2 separate regions of the Homo sapiens genome follow, and region 2 is linked to region 1. A link means that fine-mapping ties the variant in region 1 to the expression of a gene that starts in the linked region. Tissue or cell type: follicular helper T cells. Region 1 holds a variant in brackets; the other region holds the start of a gene. All regions are shown on one strand. Distances are between the middles of the regions.

The links. PIP is the estimated chance that this variant, and not a neighbour inherited with it, causes the effect.
Region 2: TEDC1 starts here. The variant in region 1 is fine-mapped to the expression of TEDC1 in follicular helper T cells (Schmiedel 2018, PIP 0.95).

What each region holds. Positions count from the first base shown.
Region 1 is chr14:105,051,513-105,057,558 of GRCh38, forward strand. It overlaps GPR132 (G protein-coupled receptor 132), which reads right to left. Exons shown (of 4, transcript NM_013345.4): 2 at 5,655-5,768; 3 at 3,875-4,654; 4 at 1-590. The coding sequence starts at 3,908. LOC124903398 (a long non-coding RNA gene) reads left to right here. Exons shown (of 2, transcript XR_007064368.1): 2 at 3,897-4,265. Among named protein-coding and RNA genes, the nearest start is that of GPR132, 11 kb to the right of the region's middle. RefSeq lists an enhancer at 4,098-4,873. The variant CAA/C (reference allele first, on the strand shown) is at 3,511.
Region 2 is chr14:105,488,860-105,493,373 of GRCh38, forward strand. TEDC1 (tubulin epsilon and delta complex 1) reads left to right here and starts at 2,387. Exons shown (of 9, transcript NM_001367178.1): 1 at 2,387-2,663; 2 at 2,763-2,841; 3 at 3,248-3,450; 4 at 3,720-3,875. The coding sequence starts at 2,517. CRIP1 (cysteine rich protein 1) reads left to right here. Exons shown (of 6, transcript NM_001311.5): 6 at 1-88. RefSeq lists silencers at 1,003-1,132, 1,263-1,312, 1,323-1,952, 2,343-2,712 and enhancers at 1,723-2,466, 2,043-2,292, 2,467-3,210.

The DNA of each region.
Region 1 (6,046 bases):
AAAGCCAACGGTGAACCTGGCGTAGTAGTACCCGGCAATCCTGCTGTCCATCTGCAGCATGTCAAAGCAGGTCTCCTTGTCTTCCGTCTGGAACACCGGGTAGTGAACGATCCCGACGAGGATGAAGATGCAGGCGGAGATGAGGATGGCGGTCCTCCGGCGGCGGCGGCCCCGACTCTCCAGCGCGTACACCACGGCCACGAAGCGGTCGCAGGAGATGCAGCACAGGAAGAGGATGCTGACGTAGATGTTGCAGAAGAAGATGTAGGCGGTCACCTTGCAGGCCAGCAGGCCTAGGGTCCAGCGGTGCTGGTTGCGGATATAGATGACCCAGAGTGGCAGCGTGCCTGTGTACAGCAGCTCGCAGAGTGCCAGGCAGAGCAGGTAGACGGCCAGCACGTTGCCCTGCAGTACCTGCAGCAGCGCCAGCCACGCAGTCAGGCAGTTGGCCGGCACCCCCAGCGTGCACACCGCGCTGTACACCACGACCAGGACTATCCTGCTCTCTTCGAAGGACACGTTGTTGCAGGTCTTGGCGGAGAGGCCCAGGGAGGCCCACGGGGCAGTGGTGGTCACTGGGGTGGCGTTTCCTGTGGGACAGAGACAAGAGTGAGGACGGGAGTCCCTGGAAACCACCTGGGAGAGACTCTACTGTGGGAAGAAAGGATAGAAGCTTTGTGGTAGCTCAGACTAGACACACGCAGGTGTTTAAAACATTTCCAAATTGATTTTTTAGAGCAATTATTAGATAGTGGATCTCCAACCTAGCAGCGTCATGGACAAAGAATGCAGGCTGGGCAATACTGAATCATTTTTCTTTTTTCTTTTTTTTGAAATGGAGTTTTGCTCTTGTGGCCCAGGTTGGAGTGCAGTGGCACAACCTCGGCTCACTGCAACCTCTGCCTCCTGGGTTCAGGCAATTCTCCTGCCTCAGCCTCCCAAGTAGCCAGGATTACAGGCACGTGCCACCATGCCTGGCTAATTTTTGTATTTTAGTAGAGACGGGGTTTCACCATGTTGGCCAGGCTGGTCTCGAATTCCTGATCTCAGGTGATCCGCCTGCATCAGCTTCCCAAAGTGCTGGGATTACAGGCGTGAGCCATTGTGTCTGGGCAATGCTGAGTCTTTGTAACTCACTGAGGTTTTCAAAAATGTTGCTTCTGGCCCGGCATGGTGGCTCACACCTGTAATCCCAGCATTTTGGGAGGCTGAGGCAGGCAGATCACTTGAGGTCAGGCGTTTGAGACCAGCCTGGCCAACATGGAGAAACCCTGTCTCTACTAAAAATTTAAAACAAATAGTTGGGCGTGCTGGCTCGCACCTGTAATCCCAGCTACTCTGGAGGCTGAGGCAGGAGAATCACTTGAACCCAGGAGGCGGAGGTTGCAGTGAGCTGAGATCGTGCCGCTGTACTCCAGCCTGGGCAACAAGAGTGAGACTCCTTCTCAAAAAAAAAAAAAAAGTTGCTTGTGTGTTTGAAAAGAATGTTGATCCTGTAATTGCTGTGTGAGTGCTTTTCTAAGCAGTCTGTTAGGCGCTGCTACTATGCCCTTCCAGCGCTGACCCACTTTGCCTCCACTTCCCACCTGGCCCCATAGCTGGGCACTGCCTCATCCTAATTCCTAACCTGTAGTCTTTTTTTTTTTTTTTTTTTTTTTGGAGATGGAGTCTCTCCCTCTGCTCTGTTGCCCAGGCTGGAGTGCAGTGGCACGATCTCAGCTCACTGCAACCTCTGCCTCCCGGATTCAAGGGATTCTCCTGCCTCAGCCTCCTGAGTAGCTGGCATTACAGGCATGCGTCACCACACCCAGCTAATTTTGTATTTTTAGTAGAGATGGGGTTTCTCCATGTTGGTCAGGCTTATCTTGAACTCCCGACCTCAGGTGATCTGCCCTCCTTGGCCTCCCAAAGTGCTGGGATTACAGGCGTGAGCCACTGCGCCCGGCTAATCTGTAGTCTTACCACATATTTGCCTGTGTGAACTATCAATTACTAAAAAAGATAATTATAAGCTCCTGTGGGAGTGGTGGATTTGTCCACCTCTCCTTGTATTCTCCCAGTGCTTGCTTTACGTATTTGAAGCTACTGTGAATTGGGGCATAGGAGTCACAGATGGTTCTGTCTTCTTGGTGAATTGATCCTCTTATTACTATGTCATGTGATACCCCTCCTCTCGGTGGCAGGAGACTAATGACCCCACCCAAAAGATGTCTGAATCCTAATCCTTGGGACATGTAGATATGGCAGGTTACACGGGAAAGGGGAACTAAGGTTGCAAGTTGAATGAAGGTTGCTAACTAGCTGACAGTAAAATAAAGAGATTATTCTGGACTATCTGGTGGGCCCAATGGAATCACAAAAGTCCTTAAATGTGGGAGAGGGCAAAAGAAAAGGAGATCAAAGTGATCTCAGCAACCTGCCTCAAACACAGCTCTCCGAGGTCAGAAACTCATCCTTTCCAGCCAGGGGGTTGCTAGAGGTCACGCAGGGTGTGCAGTGGTGTGACTTCCCCAAGCTCTGCCAGCGCCACCAGCTCCAGTGTCCTGGCTGCCCACTCTGGCTGAGTTCATGCTTCTGGGCCTTCTGTGGTTACAGATCATGGAGTCCCACCTCCAGGTCAGCAGGAAGCCGCAGACAGACCTGGCCTCAGCACCTGACGGACGGACAGAGCGTTGCCAAACTTATTGGGCCACAGCAGCCCCGGGCGGGGCAAACTTCAGCTGTGCCCTGGCGCGAGGTCAGGGGTCCCTGGGCACTGTCCAGCCCGCTGGCCTCAGGAACCTTCCACATGCAAATGTCGTAGTTTCCTTGACCTCCCTCCTGTACTTGAGGGCCTGTTGACCTCCAGCACGATGGGGCAAGTCACCCCGAACGGGGTCAGCCCTGCGGCCCCATTGTGTCGCTCTTTTTTTTTCTTTTTTTTTTTTTTGAGACGTAGTCTCAAAAAACTGTGTTGATGCCCAGGCTGGAGTGCAGTGGCGTGATCTCTGCTACTGCAACCTCTGCCTCCCAAGTTCAAGTGATTCTCCTGCCTCAGCCTCCCGAGTAGCTGGGACTACAGGCACTCGCCACCACGCCCATCTAATTTTTGTAGTTTTAGTAGAGACAAGGTTTCACCAGGTTGGCCAGGCTGGTCTTGAACTCCTGACCTTGGGTGATCTGCCCACCTTGGCCTCCCAAAGTGCTGGGATTACAGGTGTGAGCCACCATGCCAGGCCACTTGTTTTTGTGCATTTAAAAAATTCAGCTGGGCGCAGTGGCTCACGCCTGTAATCCCAGCACTTTGGGAGGCCAGGGTGGGGAGATCACTAGAGGTCAGGCGTTCGAGACCAGCCTGGCTAACCTGGTGAAAACTCGTCTCTACTAAAAATACAAAAATTAGACAGGCGTGGTGGCAGGTGCCTGCAGTCCCAGCTACTTGGGAGGCTGAGGCAGGAGAATGGTGTGAACCCGGAAGGCAGAGATTGCGCCACTGCACTCCAGCCAGGGCAACAGAGCAAGACTCCATCT[CAA/C]AAAAAAAAAAAAAAAAAAAATTCGGCCCCATGGGCCGTTCATTCCTTCAATCCCAACGCTTTGGAAGGACAAGGCAGGTGGATCACCCGAGGTCTGGAGTTCCAGACCAGCCTGACCAACATGGTGAAATCCCATCTCTATTAAAAATACAAATATTAGCCAGGCGTGGTGGGCACCTGTAATCCCAGCTACTTGGGAGGCTGATGCAGGAGAATCCCTTGAACCTGGGAGGCAGAAGCTGCAGTGAGCCGAGATTGTGCCACTGCACTCCAGCCTGGGCGATAGAGTGAGACTCAATCGCAAGAAAAAAAAATTGAAAAAGTGGAAAATTGTGGCAAAATACACATAACAAGGAATTTACCATTGTAACCGTTTTTCAGTAGCATTGGGCACATTCACATTCTTCTGCAACCATCGCCAGCATCCGTCGGCAGAACCTTCTCATCTTCCCAAACGGAGACTCTGCCCCAGGAAGCACTCGCTCCGCATTTGCTCCCAGCCCCCAGGCCTCCATTCCACTTTGTCTCTGTGCGCTGGGCTCCCCTGTCACCTCCCCACGTGGGTGGGCATCTCTGCGTGTCTTCAGCGTGTGTCCTTCCGTGTCTCACGTGCTCCACTCACCACAGTGTCCTCAAGCTCCCTCCTGTTGCAGCGTGTGCCAGGATTTCCCTTCCTTTCAAAGGCGGGATGGTATTCCATTGTATTCAGTGTGTCCTCCAGGGTCTCGCCAAAAATATAAATATATATATATATTCCACTGTGCCCTTCCATCTTGAGCAATCCTGCACGTGTGGCGTGTGGCGTGTGGCGTGTGGCGTGTTCTGCTCAGCCACGACTCCGCTGACAGACGCTCGGCTGCCTCTGTGCCTTAGCTGAGCTGCTGAGAATGACGGTGTCAAGAACATGAGGAGGGCTGTTCACGTCCCTGCTTTCCGTTCTCCTGGGTCAGACCCACAGTTGGCATTGCTGGATCTCACGGCAGTTCCGTCTCATCTCGTGGGGTGCCTCCGCGCTGTTCTCCACGGTGGTGGCGCTGGCCCACCTTCCCCCGGCGGTGTGCAGGGCTCCGGTCTCCCCACAGCCTCGCTGCGCTTGCTGGGTTTCTCCGGGTGAGTGTCGTGTCCCTTGCTCACCTTCCTCCCTGGGCAGAGGGAGAGAGTGGGTGTGACTGGGCTGCCTCACACTCAGTTGTCACCACTTCGCCCAAGACACAGGCCTGTGGCGGGCGGCGGGGGGCAGTGAAGGCAGTTCTCGGGTGGGAGGCCCAACGCCTGTGTTTGCACTCACTGTTCTTCACCCAGATGGCTCTTTTCCCATCAAACGAGTGCCCCAGCCCCGCTGTGCGAGTCCTGAGCTCAGAGGAAGTTTCGGGCCCCCTACACGGCCCCGTCTCTTTCATGACAATCACAGGCCCTGGGAGGCAGAGCCAGAATCCAAAACACAAGGGGAGATGCAGGCAAGACCCGGGGTGGCCAGAGGGGTCCCTCCCACCTCAGCCTGCACAGAGCCGCTCTGGTCTGTTCCCTCCCCGACTTCCTACGGCTCCCCCACCCCACACATCGTCGCCCGTGCGGTCTCAGTCAGGGCCTCGGTGCCCCTCAGTCCCGCACCCCCTGCTCCAGGCCTCACGCAGCCTTGGGACCTTCACCTCTGGACACCAGGTCCGTGGTGTCTGTGGCTCTGTGCCCATCTGGTGAGGAGGCTGTCCCCCGCTCCCCCGCCTCCTGCCACAAGTGACCTCCTGGGAAGAGAGCCTTCCTGGTGGGTCAGAAGTAGGGGCAACGGCACCAGGAGACGCATGGATGCGGGGGGCTGGTGGTCAGCTCCTCATGGCCCAGACCGTGCAGGGCTCCCCTGGGACCTGTGGGACAGCCCCCTGACTCAGTACTGTGTCGCCCTCCCAGGAGCCACCAACTATGCCCTCATTCCCGTTCCTGGCTTCCCAGAACTTCACGAAAGAATTATGAAATCAGTCCTTCATTTCTCCATGTAGCACCTCTAGATTTATTATTGCTGAGCTAGTTTTTATCTCGATAATCTATTTTTATGCGTTAATTTTTGAATTATGAGACAACATGCTTCATGGAAAAATTCTCATGGGCTTCCTCTTACATGTTCAAAGTCGGAGAAGGCTCTCTCACCTGGCATATTTTGCGGGTTCCAATCTCAGTGTGGCTCTAAGATAAGCTTTCTAAGTACATGTCATGCGTCTTGTCGGTCCTATCAAGACGTTCACTCTGAGAGTTTAAAATGACCTGGAAAAAGAGTAGGTTGAAATTGTTTTAGGGAAATCAGATTGAGTCACAAGTTAACCCATTGACAAACGGCTAGTGAGTATTTACTAATTTACTAAGTGGCCCGTTGATTCGTAGGTGTTTTTTAAATGTTGAGAATCTGCCGTTGCATCCCACATGAGAAACACAAGCAAGGCTCCAAGCCAACAGGCATCAAAACGTCACATTAGCCACTGCGACTACATACGATTCTTTTTTTTTTTTTTTTTTTTTTTTCTTGAGATGGAGTCTTGCTCTGT
Region 2 (4,514 bases), 440 kb after region 1:
TCTGCCACCGGCGCCTGCTCTTCTGCTGCCCATTGCCCTCCCCAGGGGGCCGTTCCAGGGTCTCATAGGCGAGGGCTCCCTGTGCAGGGTGAGTCCAGGCCACCCTAGACAGCCCGCACCCAGCCCTGGCACTCTGAGTCCGCCTCGACAACTCCCAGATCCTCAGAAGTGCCTCTGAGCCCTCCTGGCCTTCTGGGAGTGGGGAAGGGGGGCTTTGCAGGCCACCAGCCAAAGGCTCAGCAGGCCGAGAGGCCTGGGGGCGGGCGAGGCTGGCCTCGGGTCAGAGGGTGAATCAGCTCATGCTGGCTCCCTTTCTGAGAGGCTCTGGGGGAGTTATGGGAACTCCTGGCCTTCCTCCTTTCCACCCCCCAACCCTGTCCTCATTCCCCACCCCTCCAGGCCAGGCCCAGCTTCTGCAAGGGCCTGATGAGGCTGCTCTGCCCCTGACCCAGGCACCACTGCCCCATGTGCGTCCTCATCTGCCATCTACCCTGTGCCCAGGGACTTACCCAGTGGCCCGGCGTCCAGTGGGGAACTTGAGTACCGGCCGTGCACAGGGGCTGGGGGGCCTTCTGGAAACTCCCTTGTCAACTCAGCCAGCCGCTGCTGACTGGCCACCTTCAGAGACCCTCTTCCCCACACTGGCTACTTAGATACCGGCCTTGGCAGAAGGCCACCCCTCCGGACACCCACTGGTTTAAAAGAGCCCAGGGGTCTGGCCCTGCCTTAGGGCTGTGGTGGGTGTGCTGCAGGCTCAGCTCGACAGGTGCTGTGGGGGCAGTCTAGGGTGGCCCGCAGGGTGGGGTGTGTGGGGGTGATTGGGGGATTCCTGGAATTCCAAGAGCTGGGAGCCACAGCACTTTTGATGGGATGGGGGCAGGGGGTGCTGAGGTGAGGCTGGTTTCTGGCTGGACGGTGGTGGGTGGAGCTGAGGGAACTGAGATCTTTGAGACAGCGACACCTGGTGCAGAGAAAAATCCGCAAGCTCGGGGGTTGGGAGAGCGCTGAACAAGGCCGCAGAGCTGCTCCGCCATCTCCCCCACGCCTCCTGCCAAGTTCTGTGGCGCCGCGGTTCCCCACCTCCTGCTCCCATCCCCCTGGCTCCCGCCGCCCTGTAGCTCGGCAGGTGCAGTAGGCGCTCCGAGGAGGAGGCCCCTTAGCTTCAAGAAACCCGCGTGGGCGGGGTGAGGAGCGCAGTCCTCCTACTGGCGCCGTGAAGGAGATCGCGATGCGCCGGAGGGAAGGAGGCTGCGGGCGGGGAAGGACGGAGGGCGTGCGGGGAGGGAGAGGAGGGGCTTGCTGGGGGGGGGGCCCCGAGGCGGGGCCGGGAGGGCCGCCTGGAAGAGGAGGTCGGGGGCGAAGGAGGCCGAGAAGAAAGGTGGGGCCGGGACCCCTCGGGCTGCGCCTCTCGTGGGCGTGTCCAGCCAGGGCTGGGGGTCCAGGGAGGACTGAGTTTCCCTCTCCCGCCGTCCTCGCAGCCCCGGGAGGTGCAGGGGCATCGCGGGAACAGCCCCGGTGACACGCTGCCCGGGGTCTTCACGAATGCCCGGAGGCGCCGCTGGCCAGAAGCCAGCCCGACCTTCCATCCCCGCAGACAGCCCCACGTTCCTCCCGGCCCGCGTCTTTCGGGGCCGCCCGTGCAGGCGGGCCCGGCTCAGCGGCGCCCGGGCAGCAGCTGCTTCCATGCGCCGGCTTCCTCCGGGGCTGCTCCGTGGCGGCGGCAGAGGGAAGCGCTGCCGCGGGCGGGCGAGGATCGGGAGCGCCTGAGGAGGCTGCCGCGGGCTCCGGCTGCGCGTTCGGGGCGGGGGAGCTGCCCGGGACTTCGCGCCAGGGGCCAGGGGCCGGCCGCGCTGGGGTCTGCGCTGTGCGGCGCGGCGGGCTCTGGGCGCCTCCTGGCGGCCCAGCCTGGAAGGCGGCGCGATGGGGCGAGGCTCGTCCGCTCCGACTGCGTAAGCGGCCCCACAGGGCGCCTTCCGGAGTCTGCGCGCTCCCGCCCGGCGGTTGCTAGGTTGCCAAGGGGCGTGAGGCGCTGATGGGTGGGGTCTGAGCGAGGCGGGGTGTCGGGTGTCGTGACGATTGAGCCTGCAAGGGCGGACTCTGCGGTGTTCTCCATATCAACAGCCCTGCCAGGAGCCCGGAAGTGGGTCCGCACGAGACAGAATAGACTACACTCAAACTCCAGGGGAACCGTTCATTGGGCTTGGACACGAAGGCGGGACCCTGCCGACGCAGTGATTGGATGCATGTCCGGCCAGCGCGGTGATTGGGTACAGGTCTCGGGAGCGCGGTGATTGGGTACAGGTCTCGGCCAGCGCGGTGATTGGGCGCAGGTCCCAGCCGGCGCGGTGATTGGGCGCTGGACCCGGCCCGTGCCATGATTGGGCTCAGGTTCCAGCCGGAGCGGTAACTGGGCGCAGGTCCCAGCCGCCGCACTAAACCCGGCCCGTGCGGTGATTGGACGCAGGCCCCGGGCCGCGGCGGAGGCGGGCGATCCGAAAGAGGCTGGTGCTGGCTGCATGGGGAGGCGGCGGCAGCGGGTGGACCCCGCGGCTGGGGCCCGGGCCGGGGCCCTGCCTGAGGCCATCGCCGCGTTGAGTCGGTCGCTGCCCTCGGGACCCAGCCCCGAGATCTTCCGCCGCGCCAAGTTCGACCGTCCGGAGGCGGTGACGCTCTCGCGGAGGGCAGGCGGGCCGGGTGGGGTCCCGGGCCCTCGCAGGGAGTTGGGCCGGCTCCGCTGACCGCCCGCTTTTTATTTTCCGCAGACCTCCGCGCTCTGGCAGCTCCTCTTCCGTGTGCTCTCGCCACTCCCTGCGGGCAACGCCTTGGCATCGCTCGCCCTGGGTAAGCCCCGCTCCTGGCCCCGCCCACCCGGTAGCACTGGCCCCGCCTACTCCTGTAAAGCCCCGCCTTCCCCAGTAAGCCCCGCCCCGGCAGGCTCTAGCCCCCACCCAACACTGACCCCGCTTGCTCCTCAAAACTCCGCCTTCCCCGGTAAGCCACGCCCCCTGATGGGCCCTAGCTCCACCCCCTTGGGTAGCACTGGCTTCTGCTCCTACAAAGCCCTGGGGACGTCCCTGTTGGCCCCTGGTCTCCTCATCCTGGTCTGAGTTCTAGCTCTCCCACTATCATCTCTTCTGAACTAGGCCTTGAGCTTCTGCTCAAGTGACCTGTGGGGGTCTCTGGAGGGATCCAGGTGGTGTCACCTCCAGGTGGGTGGTCCCCCTAAGGTGGTGGTCTTCTGTCCTAGAGGTCCAAGCCCGCTTGGTGAAGTCAGCACTATGCTCCCAGGGCTACCCGAGGCTGGCACTGGCACAACTACCTGAGGATGGCTCGCAGGGCAGTCGGGAGCTGCTGCTGGCTCTGTCCTGGCTCTTGGCCCGAGGACCTGTGCCCGAGCAGATGCTGGCCCAGGCCCGAGTGCCTCTGGGTGACGAGATGACTGTGTGCCAGGTGCGTGTGGGTGAGGGTGAGCTGAGCCAGCCCTGGTCTCAACTCCTGGGGCCAGAGCAAGGGCAGGCCTGGGTCAGCCCCCTCTGTCTGCTTTGCTCCTCAGGGCAGTCCCATGAAGGGTTACCCAGCTGCCCAGCTGAAAGCACGGAGGCTCCCTGTGCAGGGAGCACCCGTTGTTTTTGGCTGTGCCTCCACTACCGTCTCCATCCTGGCCTTTTCTGGGGGGCAGGGTGGGGTGGGAGCAGGGCCTGACCCTTGCCCCTCTCCAGTGTGAGGCCCTGGCCAGCCCTGGCCCACCTGCACCCCACATGGAAGCAGAGGGTCCTGTGGATGTCCGCCATGTGCAGTGGCTGATGGGAAAGCTGCGGTTCCGGTGGCGCCAGCTGGTGTCCAGTCAGCAGGAGCAGTGCGCCCTCCTGAGCAAGGTAGAGCTGGCACAGGGCTTCCACTCAGGGGCTGTGTCCCGTGCTGCAGGCCGCCAGCTGCCAGTCCCTGCAGCCCGTCCCGTGAGGCCTGGCACAGGCTTTTGGCTGGATGTGGGCCTTCCTGCCCTGGCTTACCCAAAGCCTGAGCCCGTGGTTCCCGGTGGTCCTTGTAGGGGGCAGGGCTGGGCAGGGAGCCCAGTGGGGTGGGCAATGGTGGGCAGAAACGGGTGTCAGAGAGCTCACAGAATTTGCCTTTCTGTTCCCAAAAGTTACCAGTGGACTTCCAGCTCTGTGAACAGTGGGATGGGGTCTGTGCCATGAAAGCCACTCCCTCCTGGGCACTGGAGGGGGAGGAAGACAGCTCCTGTTGCCACCACATCCTGGTGGGGGCTGACTTGCGGGGTGGACAGCTCCTGTGGGGTCCTGAAGGTGGCAGGGGCTGGCTCAGGGGCACAGGTACCCAGTGGTGTGTCCACTGTGAGGCCAGCGCTGACAGGTGGGTCTGTGGCAGCGGCGGGCTCCCACCAGCGCGGGACTCCTTGGAGACCCCCCCATCCCACCCTTGCAGAGGGTCTGTTGCTCAGCTGGCCTTTCCAGGGACCTCTCACCCCGTCGGGCCTGGCCTTGGCACCAGCTGCT